Linked DNA regions of Homo sapiens: region 2 is linked to region 1. The links come from fine-mapping of genetic effects on gene expression. Tissue or cell type: tibial artery. Region 1 holds a variant in brackets; the other region holds the start of a gene. All regions are shown on one strand. Distances are between the middles of the regions.

Evidence for each region. PIP is the estimated chance that this variant, and not a neighbour inherited with it, causes the effect.
Region 2: it holds the start of HNRNPA0, and the variant in region 1 is fine-mapped to the expression of HNRNPA0 in tibial artery (GTEx, PIP above 0.99).

Annotation. Positions count from the first base shown.
Region 1 is chr5:138,630,857-138,638,959 of GRCh38, forward strand. No RefSeq gene overlaps it. Among named protein-coding and RNA genes, the nearest start is that of HSPA9, 60 kb to the left of the region's middle. The variant A/C (reference allele first, on the strand shown) is at 4,540.
Region 2 is chr5:137,751,145-137,759,247 of GRCh38, forward strand. HNRNPA0 (heterogeneous nuclear ribonucleoprotein A0) reads right to left here and starts at 3,219. Exons shown (of 1, transcript NM_006805.4): 1 at 1-3,219. The coding sequence starts at 2,922. The coding sequence ends at 2,005. RefSeq lists enhancers at 1,878-2,569, 1,979-2,138, 2,649-2,998, 3,260-3,951, 7,416-7,535 and a silencer at 3,579-3,938.

The DNA of each region.
Region 1 (8,103 bases):
TGTCCAGGGTTCTGTCTGCTGAGACCCTCCCTCGCTGGAGAAAGGAGCACTTGGTGGGCTTCTCATCAGGAAAGAGGAGATGGTTGAGCTGCATCTCTACTGAAAACTCCAGAGTTCATCTGGGAGGGCTCCTTTTTCTCCAGCCATCAGTTTTCTGACTAGCAATGCTCATTGTGTGCTGTGTAGGGCTGGCCTGGTTCCTCTTCCTTATAGCAGCCCCCTGCCTCCTCCAAAGCCAGTGCCTGTGTTAATACGATAATGCCATGACAGTGGCCAGGAGATGGTTTTACCTAACTGATTAGGCCCTCTGGAGTGGCATCTGGGGCACAGGCTTAATTCTCCCTGGCAAGGAGGCAGCCAGGGCCCAGGGCTGGAGAGCACAAGGCACTGGCTGGGAAATTGCATCTGGGAGAGCACTGAGGGGGAAAATTGGAAGTATCAGAACTTCCCAGGTTGCTATTCCACAGAGGCCAAACATTGTTAGCAGCAGCACTAATTATGATCCAGGAGAGTCAGGCCTGGCTGCCTAGCCTGCCAAGGCAGTCCTTGAGAGCGGCCTTGGGAGCCAGTAGGGCAGAGGCAGAGATGCAGGCAGGCTGGGGCTCTCAGCAACAGGGTGAATTTGGGAGAGGAAAAACTGCAGAGCCTTTCAGACCCATGTGGAAGGGGAGCTGGATAGACTGAGTTGCTGGGTGCCTTCATGTCCTTTAGAAGGCTTAGAACTATGATAGGAAGGGTGGAAATTAGATGCTTTAATGATTTCTACCTGCCAGGAATTAAGAATCGTCTGTATTTGTCTCCACTTCCTCTCTTCCCATCCCTGCTTGTCCTCAGTGCTCCAAGGCAAATTCTCTTGTCAATGTCACCAGTGATTTCCATGTTGCTAATTTCAGCTGTCATTTCTGAGTCCCCATTTTACTCATCCTGGCAGTGGCATTTGACATGGATGGTTTCTTCATAAAACACTCTCTTCCTTTGGCCTCCATGACACGCCCAGTTCTCCTACCTCCATCATCTCCTGGGCTGGCTCCTCACCTCCCCATCACTGGATGCCTCAGGGCTGTCCTTACGCCTCTGTTCTTCTTCATCCATCCTCACTCCCTAACTAATTCCATCTTCTCTGGACTTTAAAGCCAGCTATGTTGATAGGTCGTGGTCATATCCAGCGGCTACTTGCCATCCCCATGTGAGTCTCTCTTATAGTCCTCTCAAACTCAGCAGTCCCTCAGTCTTCCCCAGGGCAATAAATGCAAATCTGTTCTACCAGAGCCCCAATCTTGGAGTCATTCCTGGTTCTTCTCTTCCTTTCATGTCCCCTTATCCAATCCCTTGGGAAATGCTATCAAGTTCTACCCTTTAAATTATCTCCAGAATCTGGTCACTTATACCCAGTTACACCACTATCACCCTCATCAGAACCACCCGCTGTCACTGTTTGCCTGAGAAATTACAATAGCCTTTGAATTAGGTACAATACAGGCCATCGTGGTGGCTCATGCCTGTAATTCCAGCCAAGACAGGCAGATCACTTGAGGCCAGGAGTTCAAAACTGGCTTGGGCAACATGACAAAATCCCATCTCTACTAAAAAATACAAAAATTAGTCAGGCATGGGGGCGCGTGCCTGTGATCCCAGCTACTTGGGAGGCTGAGGCATGAGACTCGGTTGAACCCAGGAGGCAGAGGTTGCAGTGAGCCGAGATCACACCAGCCTGGGTAAGAGAGTGAGACTCTCCCTCAAAAAAAGAATTAGGGGCCGAGCACAGTGGCTCATGCCTGTAATCCCAGCACTTTGGGAGGTCAAGGTGGGCGGATCACAATATCAGGAGATCGAGACCATTTTCTATTAAAATTGTATATATTATTTGAGCTGTACAATGCAATGTTTTGGTATCTGTATGCATTGTGAAATGATTACCACAATCAAACTAATGAACATATCCATCACCTCACGCATTTACCTTTTTTAGTTCATGTTCTTTTTTTTTTTTTTGAGACTGAGTCTCGCTCTATCACCCGGCTGGAGGGCAGTGGCACGATCTTGGCTCACCGCAACCTCCACCTCCCGGGTTCAAGCAATTCCCCTGCCTCAGCCTCCGGAGTAGCTGCGATTACAGGCGCCTGCCGCCACGCCCGGCTAATTTTTGTATTTTTAGTAAAGATGGGGTTTCACCACCCTGGCCAGGCTGGTCTTGAACTCCTGACCTCGTGATCCGCCTGCCTTGGCCTCCCAGAGTGCTGGGATTACAGGCATAGTCCACCACGCCCGGCCTGCTCACATCCTTTTTGCTGGCATTTTGTCACATGGCTGCGCTTAGTTGCAAGGGAGGTTGGGAAATGTAGTCCTTTTTCTGAGCAGCCATGTCGCCCGCTAAAATGTGGAAGGAAAGGATGAATTTGAGGGGAAAACTCCTTGCTCTGCCATAGTCTCCTAAGTGGTTTTCTTCTTTCTGCTCTGCCCCCTACAGGTTGTTCTAAACACAGCAGCCAGAGTAATCCCGTTAAATCAGAACGTGTCACTTTTCTGTGTAGAACCTTCTAAAGACCTCCCCCCTCACTCAGAAAGAAATCTAAAATCCTTACCATGGTCTACAAGGCCCTACATAATCTGAGCACCAATTTCTCTCTGATTTCATATCCTACATCTTTCATCCTTACTCACTCCACTCCAGCCTCACTCACTCCACGCCTTGCAAAATACCCCCACCTCAGAGCTTTTGAAGCTGCTATACCCTCTGCCTGGAACATTCTTTCCCCAGATAGCTGAAAATGTGTCTCCTTCACTTCCTTTAGGATCCTGCTCAAATGCCACCCACTCAAAGAGGCTTTTCTTGGGCCCCATTCCCACCATCCCCATCCCCCTTACCATCCTTTGTTTTTCTCTGAGGCAATTAACATCACCTGAAATATTATATGTTTACTTACATTATATGTGTTTTTCCCACTAGAACATATGATCTAGGGTCCACATACAGCAGGTGTGCTCTACATGCTTGTGGAGTGAATGAACAGATGAAGACAGCAGTGCATGGGAACAAAGGCAGCAGAAGGCTGCTTCTTCCTTAGTCATTTCAGGAGGACCCATGTCTTGATTCCTGTTGTGGGTCCAATTTGGAAACAGACTCCTTAGTTTCTTGCTTCTAGGAGCTCCCTTGAGTTCAATTTATGAAATATTCATTAGACATCTAGTGCGTTTGTTACCTAGTATGGCAGATGTAGAAGGAAAATAAGCTATAGAGCACTATTGGCCCTTGGGAAACATATGGATTGGTTAGGAGCCTAGATTTTGTCCTTTTCTTTCTTTGCAAGTGTGACCATTCAGGTGTTGTGTAAAAGGCCAGGGAAAGAGTGGCTTCACTCTTTATGGAGGCACGATAAACTGGTATGGCCTGGGTAGGAAAGAGGGGAGGAGGCCGGGCGCAGTGGCTCACGTCTGTAATCCCAGCACTTTGGGAGGCCAAGGTGGGTGGATCACCTGAGGTTGGGAGTTCGAGATCAGCCTGACCAACATGGAGAAACCCCATCTCTACTAAAAATACAAAGTTAGCTGGGTGTGGTGGCGCATGCCTGTAATCCCTGCTACTCAGGAGGCTGAGGTAGGAGAATCGTTTGAACCAAAGAGGTGGAGGTTGCGGTGAGCTGAGACCGTGCCATTGCACTCCAGCCTGGGCGAGGGCAAAACTCCGTCTCAAAAAAAAAAAAAAAAAAAAAAAAAGGAAAGGGGGTGGGGTCTGAAGAGAGGCTGCCCCATTACAGGTTATAGTGTTTTTTTTCTCCCTCTTATTCCCTATGGAATAGGGCTTCGTTCCTTGCTGGTCTGCTTAAGAAACAGTTTGAGGCCGGGCACGGTGGCTCAGGCCTGTAATCCCAGCACTCTGGGAGGCCAAGGTGGGTGTTCACCTGAGGTCAGACATGGTGAAACCCTGAATCTACTAAAAATACAAAAATTAGCCAGGTGTGGTAGCAAGTGCCTGTAATACCAGCTACTTGGGAGGCTGAGGCAGGAGAATTGCTTGAACCAGGGAGGCAGAGGTCTCAGTGAGCCGAGATTGCGCCACTGTACTGCAGCCTGGGTGACAGAGCAAGACTCTGTCTCAAAAAAAGAAAGAAAGAGAGAGAGAAGGGAAAGAAAGAAAGAAGGAAAGAAAGAAAGAAAGAGAAAGAAAAAGAAAGGAAGGAAGGAAGAAAGGAAGGAGGGAGGGAGAGACAGAAAAAAGAAGAAAGAAAGAAAGAAAAGAAAGAAAGAAAAAAGAAACAGTTTGAACCAGTTCTCATTTGATGGAGGAGGGGGAAAGATAGACGGGGGTGGGGGTTGGGGTTGGGGGCTTGCGGGGGTGGGAAGGGGCCTGGCCAGAGGGCTGCAGAGGGCTGGTGGAAGAGAAGGAAAGGAGGGCTAGGCTTTAGGGGGCCCCAGCTGGAGGGAAAGGTAGCTGAGAAAAGCTGAGGCTGAGTAGGAGATAAATGACCTGAAAAGATTGCTCCATTATCCTTCCTTGCTCTGGGCAAAATGCAAAAGGTCATGCTTGGTTATTTTCCCCCC[A/C]ACTCCCTCCTCACAGGGCCACTTAGACACTGCTCTGACATTTACAGCCGCAGAGGATCAGAGGCCTCTTCTGAGGCCTGGCTCGAGATTTCCACATTGGGAAAGTTCCAGTTTCTTTTTTTCTTTGGATGAGGCTGCTTGCTGCATCCCTCATAATTCTTCCTTCTCTTGACATTCCCCTTCAGTCCGAGAGGGAGAGCCAAGAGCAGTGGTTCTCAAACTTGAAAGTGGATAAGAACCACTAGAAGGCTTGTTAAAACAAGTTTGGGCTGGGTGCAGTGGCTCACACCTGTAATCCCAACACTTTGGGAAGCTGAGGTGGGTAGATCACTTGAACCTAGGAGTTCGAGACCAGCCTGGGCAACATGGCAAAACCCCATCTCTACTAAAAATACCAAAAGATTACCCACACTTGGTGGCGTGTGCCTATGGTTACAGCTGCTCTGGAGGCTGAGGTGGGAGGATCACCTGAGCCCAGAAGGTCGAGGCTGCAGTGAGCTGTGTTCATGCCATTGCACTTTGGCCTGGGCAACAGAGTGAGACTGTCTCAAAAACAAACAAACAAAAAAACAAGTTTGCCTGATGCCACACCCAGAGCTGATTCAGTAGGTCTGGGGTAGGCCTGAGAGCTTACATTTCTAGCAAGTTCCCAGCTGATGCGGATGCCAATACTGCTGGTCCCAACCACGTTGGGAGAATCACTGACCTAAAGCAACTTGTTTGGGTCAAAAGATGTCCCTCATGATCTTCAGTCCTTTTCTCCAGCTCCCCAACCAAGGGGAAGTAGGCTTGAGTTATCACAAGAGTCATCCAAATTCAATGTCAAGGACTTCTTGACCATCAGGTTTATAGGACAAGGCAGTCCACAAAATCCCCCTCCCTCTAAATCTTTGAGAATCTCTTCCATTCTCATACACCTGGGTGAGTGAAGATCTGTTCTCCCCTGCCACAAACCCCACTGCCTGGACAGGGAATTCCCGGGACTTGAGAATGGCAGCAAGTGTGGCAGGTGGAAGATGGGAGGACAACAGATGCCGAGTAAGCAGAGGGAACCCCTCCCCTCCTACATGCTATTTCTTTGAGATTAAAATATTTGTTTCTTCCTGGGCTCTGGTCAAGCCCATATCTGGGAAAGCATTTATGCTTAATGTCCTCAACCCATTAGCAACCCGGCATGGGGCTCTACTAATCAGGGTCCTTAATGGCAGCACCGTGAAGAGTGAGGCTGTAAGTGACTGCACCTGCTTCCCAGCCTCAGCTGGAGAGGAAGTGTCTAGACAAGACCAGAGACTAGGTAGGCTCAGCGGTGGCCTGAGAATGATTCATGCCGGCTTAGGAGGCTGATCTGACCTAATGATAACCTGTCCTCCCACCTCCAGTTTGGTAGGGGTGCAGAGGAGGCTCCCTGGTTACCTTGGCTGAAGTAGCAAGACCCCCCAGTCCTACTCAGCCTCCTCTTCTCTCCTCAAATTACAGAACATTGGCCTCCTTTAGAGCATGTTCTTCTCCCAGCATCCAGCATTTATTGAGCACCTCTATGTGCAAAGGACTCCTTCCCGCACCAACTGCTTTTCATTTCAAAATCCACAAGCTCGTACTTGAGTCTGTCACCAAATAGGGGGTGAGGGCCTTTGACCTGGAATCTAGGGGATACCTAGGGATCCTCTAGTGCTCAGACTGTGTGGGCTGCACCTTCTGCAGCCACTCTTGATGAGTTGGGTTCTTTGGCTTTGATCTACAGAGGGAGTATTTGGAGAGCCCTTATTTAAGAGTAACCAGATATTCTAAGGATCAAGGCCAGTCTCGAAGTATTTGCCTCTTGCTTCTCTTGACATGATGTGTTTGGTCCTTGCTGCAGACTAAGTGTCCCCAACTAAATGTGTATGTTAAAACCCCACCCCTCAATGTGATGATATTAGGAGGTGGGGACTTTCGGAGGTAATTAGGATTAGATGAGGTCATTGGGGCCCTCATGAATGAGATTAGTGCCCTCATTCATGAACGGGGCTAGGCATGGTGGCTCATACCTGTAATACCAGCATTTCAGGAGCCCAGCGCAGGAGGATTGCTTGAGGCCAGGCGTTGGAGGCTGCAGTGAGCTATTTGTGCTACTACACTCAGCCAGGGTGACAGAGCAAGACCTGGTCTCTAAAACCAGAGTCCTGAGAGAGCTTGCTGCTTCTTGCTTGCCTCCTCTCTCTGTGCTCAGCCAGCTGAGGATACAATTAGAAGCTGGCCATCTGAAGGAAGAAGAAGGCCCCACCCAGAAGTTGATTCCGATCTTGGATTTCCAGTCTCCAGAACTGTGAGAAATTAATTTCTGGTCAGGTACAGTGGCTCACGCCTGTAATCCCAACACTTTGGGAGGCCAAGGCAGGCAGATCACTTGAGGCTAGGAGTTCAAGACCAGCATGGCCAACATGGTGAAACCCTGTCTCTATTAAAAATACAAAAATTAGCTGGGCATGGTGGTGCACACCTGTAATCCCAGCTACTTGGGAGGCTGAGGCAAGAGAATTGCTTGAACCTGGAAGGCAGAGGTTGCAGTGAGCCAAGATGGCGCCACTGCACTCCAGCTTGGGCCACAGAGTGAGACTCTCTCTCAAAAAAAAAAAAAAAGAAAAAGAAAAAGAAAAAAAAATCTGTTGTTTATAAGCCACTCCATTTACAGTATTTTGTTATAGAAGCCTGAACTGACTAAGGCAGTTCCACTAGACAACTCAAACCACTGCAGCTCTCCCAGATTCTGGAAAGGAAAGATATCCCACTCCACCCCCACTCAATGAAACACTTGAGACAGGAGGTGAGTTTCTGCTTCAGAAGGACATGGAGTCATGCTTTAAAAAGGACTATAGAAAAAACAAACAGGCTGGGTGCAGTGGCTCATGCCTGTAACCCTAACACTTTGGGAGGCCAAGAAAGGCCGATCACTTGAGCCCAGGAGTTTCAGACCAGCCTGGCTAATGTGCTGAAACCCCGTCTCTACTAAAAATACAAAAATTAGCCAGGCGTGGGTGTGCGTGCCTACAATCCCAGCTATTCAGGAGGCTAAGGCAGGAGAATTGCTTGAACCTAGAAGGTGGAGGTTGCAGTGAGCTGAGATTACACCACTGCACTCCAGGCTGGGCAGCAGAGCGAGACTCCATTTCAAAAAAAAGAAAAAACAAACAGATTGGGTGCAGTGCCTCATACTCTTGATCCCAGCACTTTGGGAGGCCGAGGTGGGCAGATTGCTTGTGCTCAGGAGTTTGAGATCAGCCTGGGCAACATGGCAAAAACCCATCTCTACAAAAAACACAAAAAAATTAGCCAGGTGTGGTGGTGCACACCTGTGGTCCCAGCTACTTGGGAAGCTGAAGCATGAGGCTCACTTGAGCCCAGGAGGCGGAGGTTGCAAACAACATAAGAGAAACAACATAAGAGAAACCATCAAGTGCCAGTGACTGGTTCTTGTTCATTCTCCCCTCGTTTATGGGAACTTCAGAGCCTGGAAGAGGTAGAGCACCTCTAAGGGGGACACCACACAAAGCCACCACACTAAGCCACCACTGTCATCAGAGCCAC
Region 2 (8,103 bases), 880 kb before region 1:
TATGTATTACCTCAATGTGTAAAAACATCCACCCCGTTTGTCATAGAGGATATAACACTATTTGTACCAACCATCCGCTACCCTTTGTCAAAATGACTACTGAGCAGCTATAACCTAGCCTAATAATCTTAACCTTTCTTCTTACTTCTTTAAAAGCCCTGCCAATCAGGAAAAAAAAAAAAAAAACTGGCAAGAACTAGACCTTAGGAATTGAACAGTGACAAGAAGTTAAAAAATGGTTCAATATTAAAATATTATTTTATTTTAAAGCCCAATCTTTCAGAAAGCTTCTTAGTATAGCTTTGAGCCTTCAACGTCAACATGTAAGTCAAATATTTAAGTTAAATATTAACATCAAGTTAAGCATACTAGATTAAAAGGTACTCTGAACCCACCCACCAGGTTATACATACTCTCACTCAATCATGTAAAGAATTGAATTCTTTATTTGTGATATCCATAAACGTTGCTATTCTCTATTTCTATCCAGAAAGGCAATTTTCACCTATTATCACTTTTGTTCTTCTCTTATAAACAACAACTTGAATGCTATTGCAGGAAAGGGCTACAAATATACATTTGTTAACCAAGCAGAATACACAGATATTTTGCTTTACAACTTGCACCTAAAATACCAGTATACGTAGCTGGTTCATTAGTTGTCATAGCAATTTAGGGCTATTGCCCAAGCTATGCATAGCAGTTTACATTTTCAAACCTCATATAGAAAGGGCTATTGTGATATGAACTGGCAACTACATTCCTGTGAAGCCCATCTCAGTTACAAGCAAATGTGTTAACTTCCAATTCTGCAAAGAATTTTGATGGCAAAACTTCCAAATCTGATGCAATTGTCTTAAGCAAGTTTTTAAACAAATTGTTTCGCAGCTACTCTGCCATTCTGCCAGTAGATGGTGCTACAAAGATCGGGAAAGGGATTTCCATGAGGCCAACAGTTCGGATATAGGAAAAAAAAAAAAAAAACGTTTAAACCTGCTCTGAAAGTACAAAAACGCATTTGAGGGTAAAATATAACCCTTATTTTTAACCATTCATTACAGACAAACCAGTAAGAGGGATGAAACTAGGCCATCTGAAAAATTTTAAACAGTTTATATGAATGACATGCTTAACACAAACTATATAGAACTACACAGTACACAGTTTGAAGTAAATTGTCATAGAAATGACCAACCATGTCAAGATGATAAACAATTCGCTTAGTACAAGAGATGGATGCACAGAAACTTAAGAGTTTAAAAAGCCACATCCACCACTTCAAAAGTTTTGCCTGTAAGGGATATAATTCAACACGCAACTAGCAGGGCAACAGGAGAGGGGAAAAAAACCACAGGACCTCTTAAGTTTCTCTAAGTACACATCAAGAATAAAGAATTAACACGTAAAGTCTTAAACAAATATCCCTTAAAAAACGGTACGGAATGGATCCTAGAAAAAAAATGTTAGACATGTACGGTCAAACACAATGATTTATTAAAAATAAAACGTAAAAATGATTTTTGTACATATGCTTCCAAATTTCAGGCATGGGATCCAAGTAGATTTCATAGAAAACGCTGTAGCCAGGTTATCAAGTCCTTACAACAAAGTAAACTACCCCCCACCCCAACCCCCACCCAGGTTTTGCTACAGAATCAGCAAGTTCACTCCCTCCCTCCCCCCAAAAAACACAAATTAAAACAAGACATTTTGCTAGTATAAAAACGACCAAGGTCCAAGTAATAATAAAAAAATAGAGTCCATCAATGACTGTAACACAAAAATGTGTATGTGGGGCCGAGTCCATCTTCAGAGGGAGAGACAAGAGAGGTGGCAGGCAAATAGAGGAACACCCCCAAGGGTAAGCAGCCTTAGAAGTGGCTCCCCCAAGGGCAAAACAGGGAAGGCGGTGTGTGTGAGGGGGTGGGGCTTAGGAGTTGACCCCACTTGGGCTGTTGGAAAGAGCTACCCCTATAGCCACTCCCAGGCATTTTAAATTTTCTTTTAGAAGGAGCTGCCTCCATAGCCACCCCCACCGCCATAGCCGCCTCTGTAAGGTCCACTATTACTGCGACCGCCCCAGCTACTGCCTCCACCGCCGCCGCCGCCGCCGCTCTTCATGGGCCCATAGGAGGACTGATGCTGGCTGTAGCTGCCGAAGCCGCCGAAGCCGTTACCGTAGTCGCTCCCACCGTAGGACGAACCGCCGCCGCCGCCTCCGTAGGCATTGTAGCCGCCGCCTCCGCCGCCGCCGTAACCACCGTAGCTGTTGTAACCGCCGCCGCCGCCCTTGGAAAGGCCGTTCTGGTCTCGACCACCGCCGCGCCCCCGGCCGCCTCGGCCGCCCCGGGAGGATCGGGAGCCGCCTCCACCCCCACCGGAGTAGATATCCTCCTTGGGGACTGCTTTCTTCACCTCCACGCGATGGCCCTGAATCGGATGGAACTTGACCACCGCGGCCTTGTCTGCCGCGTCGTGATTCTGGAAATACACGAAGCCGAATCCACGCTTCTTGCCGGACTGCTTGTCGGCAATAATCTCGGCCTTTTCCACGGTGCCAAACTGCGAGAAGTGCTCGATCAGGTCGCCCTCAGCCACGTCTCCTTTAAGGCCTCCGACAAAGAGCTTCTTAACCTTGGCGTGGGCACCGGGCCGCGCCGAATCCTCCCGGGACACCGCCCGCTTCAGCTCCACAGTGTTGCCGTCCACGGCATGGGGCGAGGCGGCCATGGCGGCGTCCGCCTCCTCCACATTGGAGTAGGTCACGAAGCCAAAGCAACGGGAGCGCTTGGTCTGGGGATTCACCACCACCACGCAGTCCGTCAGAGTCCCAAAGGCCTCAAAGTGGCCGCGCAGGCCCGACTCACTCGTCTGCACATTGAGGCCGCCGATGAACAGCTTACACAACTGAGAATTCTCCATCTCCAAGGCCCGGGCCTTGCCCCCGCCCTGCGAGCTCCGAGGTTTCGCCGTCGCCGCCGTTATCGTTGGTTAAGGCCTCTACACAGCTTGGGCCCAGCCGTTGCTGGAGCCACCCCCGCCGCTCACCGACGGGGAAGGGAAAAAGGGAAGGGGAGGGAAGGAAGGAAGAGAGGAAGGGGGAGGGAAGGGGAGCGGTGCCGGCTAAAGGGCGAGCCGAGGAGACTGGAAGACAACCAAGGCCACCGCTACCGCCGCCGCCGCCACCTCCGCTCCCCTATCTGGGCACCACACAAAGAGGCCGCTGAACGCGCGCGCACCCTCCCCGAGGCGTGCGTCACCGCCGACGTACGGCAGCCTAGGGCTACCAGCCAATCCCCGCCTCGCTCCCCTTAATCCCGCCTACCGCGCCGCAGCGCCGCTCTAGATCACGGACTCCCCGCCCTCCGCGGTCTATTCAAGCCCGCGGCCTGTGCCGCTCCCGCTTCCGCTTCTGCCAGCCCACTTTCATTCCCGAGCGCCCCACTGTCCCTTGACATGGGTCCCTCCCTGCCCTCCGCGCACCACCGCGATTCATTTCCTCCTAGCACCGCGGCTGTTCCCAGTGTTTCTCCCCCTCCCCTTTACTCATCCCCTCGCCCAACTCCGCAGTGGCGTTCGCGCCAGCCCCTTGAGAGACATCTGAGTTCAGCCAATCACCGTGATCCCCTCGCACCCACTTCCGTTTTCGGCAGCTGTTGGACGGGCGCGCTCCCCGGTGCGCGCTTGCCCCGGCGCCCCCGGCGTGCAGAGCCGGCCTACCACCCCCGCGCCTTCTCCCGCCCAGGGCTTTGCCGGGGAGAGAGCAGGGGGCGCGCTGGGGGCCATTCCCAACGGATGCGGTCTGGGGCGCCACGCGCGGGCTTTTTGAAAACTTGACTGTTGGGGTTGGGGGCCCGGATCTACCCGCCGCCTCTCCGCTTGTCCGCTACACCTGGCGTCCCCGCCCCACCTCCCGCCCGCACAAAGATGGAGGGCAGAGGCCTGGTCCACGAAGGCGGTTATTAACCGTTTACAGTGGGCCCGACGTGCGGTTAAACTAAAACTTTGCCACGTGGCCCTGCGCAAAAGCGAGCCCGAGGCGGCGGTGTGAAAGACAACAGGGAACCAAAAGAACTTCAGACATTAGGAACCAGACGAGGCGCGACATCCCTGCCTCCCTGCCACCCTCCCGCCCTCCTTGAAGCCCTCCCACGATGCCCTCTCAGAGGAGGCCCTTTCAGGTCCCCTTGGCACACTCCAGCAGACATTTTCATTTAACCTCAGTGAATGGTTTTTTATGTGTAATTTACATCATCTATGTGTTGCTTTCTTTGAACTAGAATGTTAGCTTTTTTGTTGTTGTTGAGATGGAGTTTCACTCTTGTTGCCCAGGCTGTAGTGCACTGGCGCAATCTCGGCTCAGCAACCTCCGCCTCCTGGGTTCAAGCTGTTCTCCTGCCTCAGCCTCCTGAGTAGCTGAGATTACAGGCGCCCACCACCACACCCGGCTAATTTTTGTATTTTAGCAGAGATGGGGTTTCACCATGTTGGTCAGACTGGTCTCAAACTCCTGACCTTAGGTGATCCATCTGCCTCGGCCTCCCAAAGTGCTGGGTTACAGGCGTGAGCCACCGCGCCTGGCCTAGAATGTTAACTTTGCTTTTTTTTTTTTTTTTTTGAGACGGAGTCTTGCCTAAGCTGGAATGCAATGGCACGATCTTGGTTCACTGCAACCTCCACCTCCCGGGTTCAAGCGATTCTCCTGCCTCAGCCTCCCAAGTAGCTGGGACTACAGGCGGGCACCACCACACCTGGCTAATGTTTGTATTTTTAGTGGAGACGGGATTTCACCATGTTGGTCAGGATGGTCTCAAACTCGTGACCTAGTGATCTGCCCGCCTCGGCCTCCCAAAAGTAGAATGTTAGCTTTTTAAAGATGTTGGGTTAGACGAATGTTTTACAGAGAGAGAGATCATATACCCCTAAGTTACTGCTTTTAGTGCCCTCACTCAGATGGGAATGGAAGAAAATTACAATGGCTTCCATTTATTGAGCCTTTGTGTGCCAAGCAAGATAAATGGGGTGGGACATAGTTAATATGAGGCATTACGTGACCAAAAGCCTCCAAAACCATATGGTAAACGCTGAAGAAGTTAAGAGGAATTCCTCACTGTATCCTCAAGTATTCAGGAAAGATTTAGGAAAGAATTGGAAGTTGCACTGAACCTCAGAGCCAAAGACTAGTTAGTATCCTAAGCAAATTAAGGCTGGAACAGAAAACCAAATACCACAAGTTCTCACTTATAAGTGGGAGCTACACATTGAGTACACATGGACACAAAAGAAGGGAACATTAGACATCAGGTCTTTTTTAAGGATGGAGGGTGGGAGGAGGGTGAGGACTAAAAAGCTACCTATCAGGTATTATGCTGATGACTTGGGTGACAAAATTATCTATACACCAAACCCCCAAGACTAACAATTTACCCACATAACAAACCTCCACGCGTATCCCTTGAACCTAAAATAAAAGTTGGAAAGGAAAAAAAAAAAGATTTCTGTAGGGAGTTTATTTGAGCAAAATCCAGAGGGAACATAAGCTTCAAGAGACAGGGAGTGGGCCAGTTAGTTTGAGAGAAGCAGGCAGTTTTAGATAGAAAATAGTGAGAGGTAAGATAGGTTGAGGGTCTTTGGTACTATGAAATGATACTATGGAATGTGCTGAATCTTAGGTTAAGTAGTTTGGATACTGTAACAAAGGTAAATAGATGGGCTAAGGTTTGAGGGTAAACTAGTCTGATCTATCACTTACCCTGTAACCATTCAGTTATGTGACTTTGGCTAAGTTACTTAACCTTTTAAAAAAATGTAATCAGTTTTATTATCTTAAAATGGGAATAATAAAACATCTTTCTGTTGTAGTGAAAATTAAATAAGATTCTACATGTAAACATGTATACATGCCTGGTACACAGTAAGTGCTCAGTTTATCCAATTATATGAATCCTATGCCTGGTGCTGGCAATATGGCTGTAAACAACAGACAAAAACCTCTGCCCTCATGATGCTTACATTCTAGTGGGAAGAAGCAGACAATAAACAAATAAGAGTGGTATATGGCATGTTAGATAGTGATAAATGACATTAAAAAAATGAAAGAGGACAGTAGAAAGCTATTAACCTTGTTATTACAAAAAAAATTCAAATGTCAGGATTTGCCTATTGATAATAAAGAAAGGGGAAAATGGGCTGGGCACAGTGGCTCGTGCCTGTAATCCCTGCACTGTGGGGGGGCTGAGGCAGGCGGATCACTTGAGGTCAGGAGCTCAAGACCAGCATGGCTAACAAATTGAAACCCCGTGTGTGGTGGCGCATGCCTGTAGTCCCAGCTACTTGGGAGGCTGAAGCAGGAGAATTGCTTGAACCCAGAAGGCAGATGCTGCTGTTGTTAGCTGAGATGGCACCACTGTTTCAGAGTCATCCAAATCTTAAAACAGTAAAAGATGAACTCCTGAAGGAATAAAGACCATAACTTATGAAAACTGTTACTTTAGGAATTTACAATTTTGGTAGATAGTTTTTGCCTACATTGTTTTTAAATAATAGTTTACCAGCAGTGCCCAACTTTTCTGGCACAAGAGACCTATTTTGTGAAAAACAATTTTTCCACAGACCAGGATGTAGTTTCAGGATGATTCAAGTGCATTACATTTAATGTGCACTTTATTTCTATTATTATTGCATCATAATATTCAATGAAATATAATAATTATACAACTCACCGTAACGTAGAATCAGTGGAAGGCTTGAGCTTGTTTTCCCGCAACTAGCCGGTTCCCATCTGGGGGTGATGGGAGACAGTGACACCCGAAGTGTGTTGCTTATGTCCAGTTTACTCCATAATCTAGTTTTGGTTGCTGTCACTGCAGAAAACCCTGCTTCACAAATATAGGATGCTGGAAATGGAAGCAGGCTTTTCAGTGCTTTTGTGGCAATCTCAGGATATTCCATCCAGAATGTATGGAGATTTGAAGTTGTCTCAAACATACAAGGCTGCCGTCACTTGCAATCTCAAGCAGTTGATCCTCTTCTAGTATCGACAAAGTCAATTCTTCTGGCTTATTCACAAATGGGTGGTGGATCCATTCCTTCCCAGCTCAGGGATTTTTTTGTGGTTGGCAAGTAAAGCTCAAACTCTTTTGAAAGCTGAGCTAGGTGATCATGCAGCAGCTGGGAGAAAGAAGGCGTTGGCTCAGTCACTTTCAAAATCTCTGCTAATGTTTGAAACATGTCAGAAATCCCAATGTTCACTCATCGCCCCCATAACTCCAGTTTGGTTTTCAATGCAGCCCCTTTATCTGCTGATTTGAACACAGTTGTCATTCTCCCCTGAAGTGACAGATTGAATTCACTGAGCAGGTTGAATGTGTCACACAAGTAAACAAGTTTTGCCACCCATTCTATGTCACTGAAATGTGCTGCTAGTGGTGACTGTTTTTGTAAAAGAAATCTCTGGAGTGGCTCTCATAACTCAAAAATTCTGGCCAGTTATCTACCTTTAGAAAGCCATCTCATTTCTTATACACATCTCACAGAGTTGCGCAAACAGACATTGAGTTAAGGGCATGCACTTTAATGTCATTGATAATTTTAATCACATCCTGTAAAACCTTAAGTTCGGGTGACAATTTTCGGCTACCCGGCATTTCTCTGTAGATGACACAGTGCATAGACTCACATTCAGAAGTGACCTCTTTGACCTGAGTAGTGAAACCAGAAAGCCATCCAGTCATATCAGCCACTCTGTCTGTGCATATACTGACACAAAATGACCAATTCCGTTTTTCTGATATGTAATCAAAGTCTTGAATAGTTCTGCACCTGTGGTGTTGGTTGGCAACAAAAGTGCACATAACATATTCCCCTGCACATCCTCCTGAAAAAGATATGGCACAAAAACAAGCATTGTTGTCTTGTCAACATCAGTAGACTCATTAACCTGGATTGCATACCATGGTGACTCATTAATCCTAACAATTGTGCCCCAATATCCTCTGTATTTCATCACTTTGTCTAGTTATGGTACTAGCCGAAAAAGGAACATGTGTCACCTTTTGAACTTCAGCCTCTCCTAAAAGTTCATGATAAATGTCCTTAGCAGCA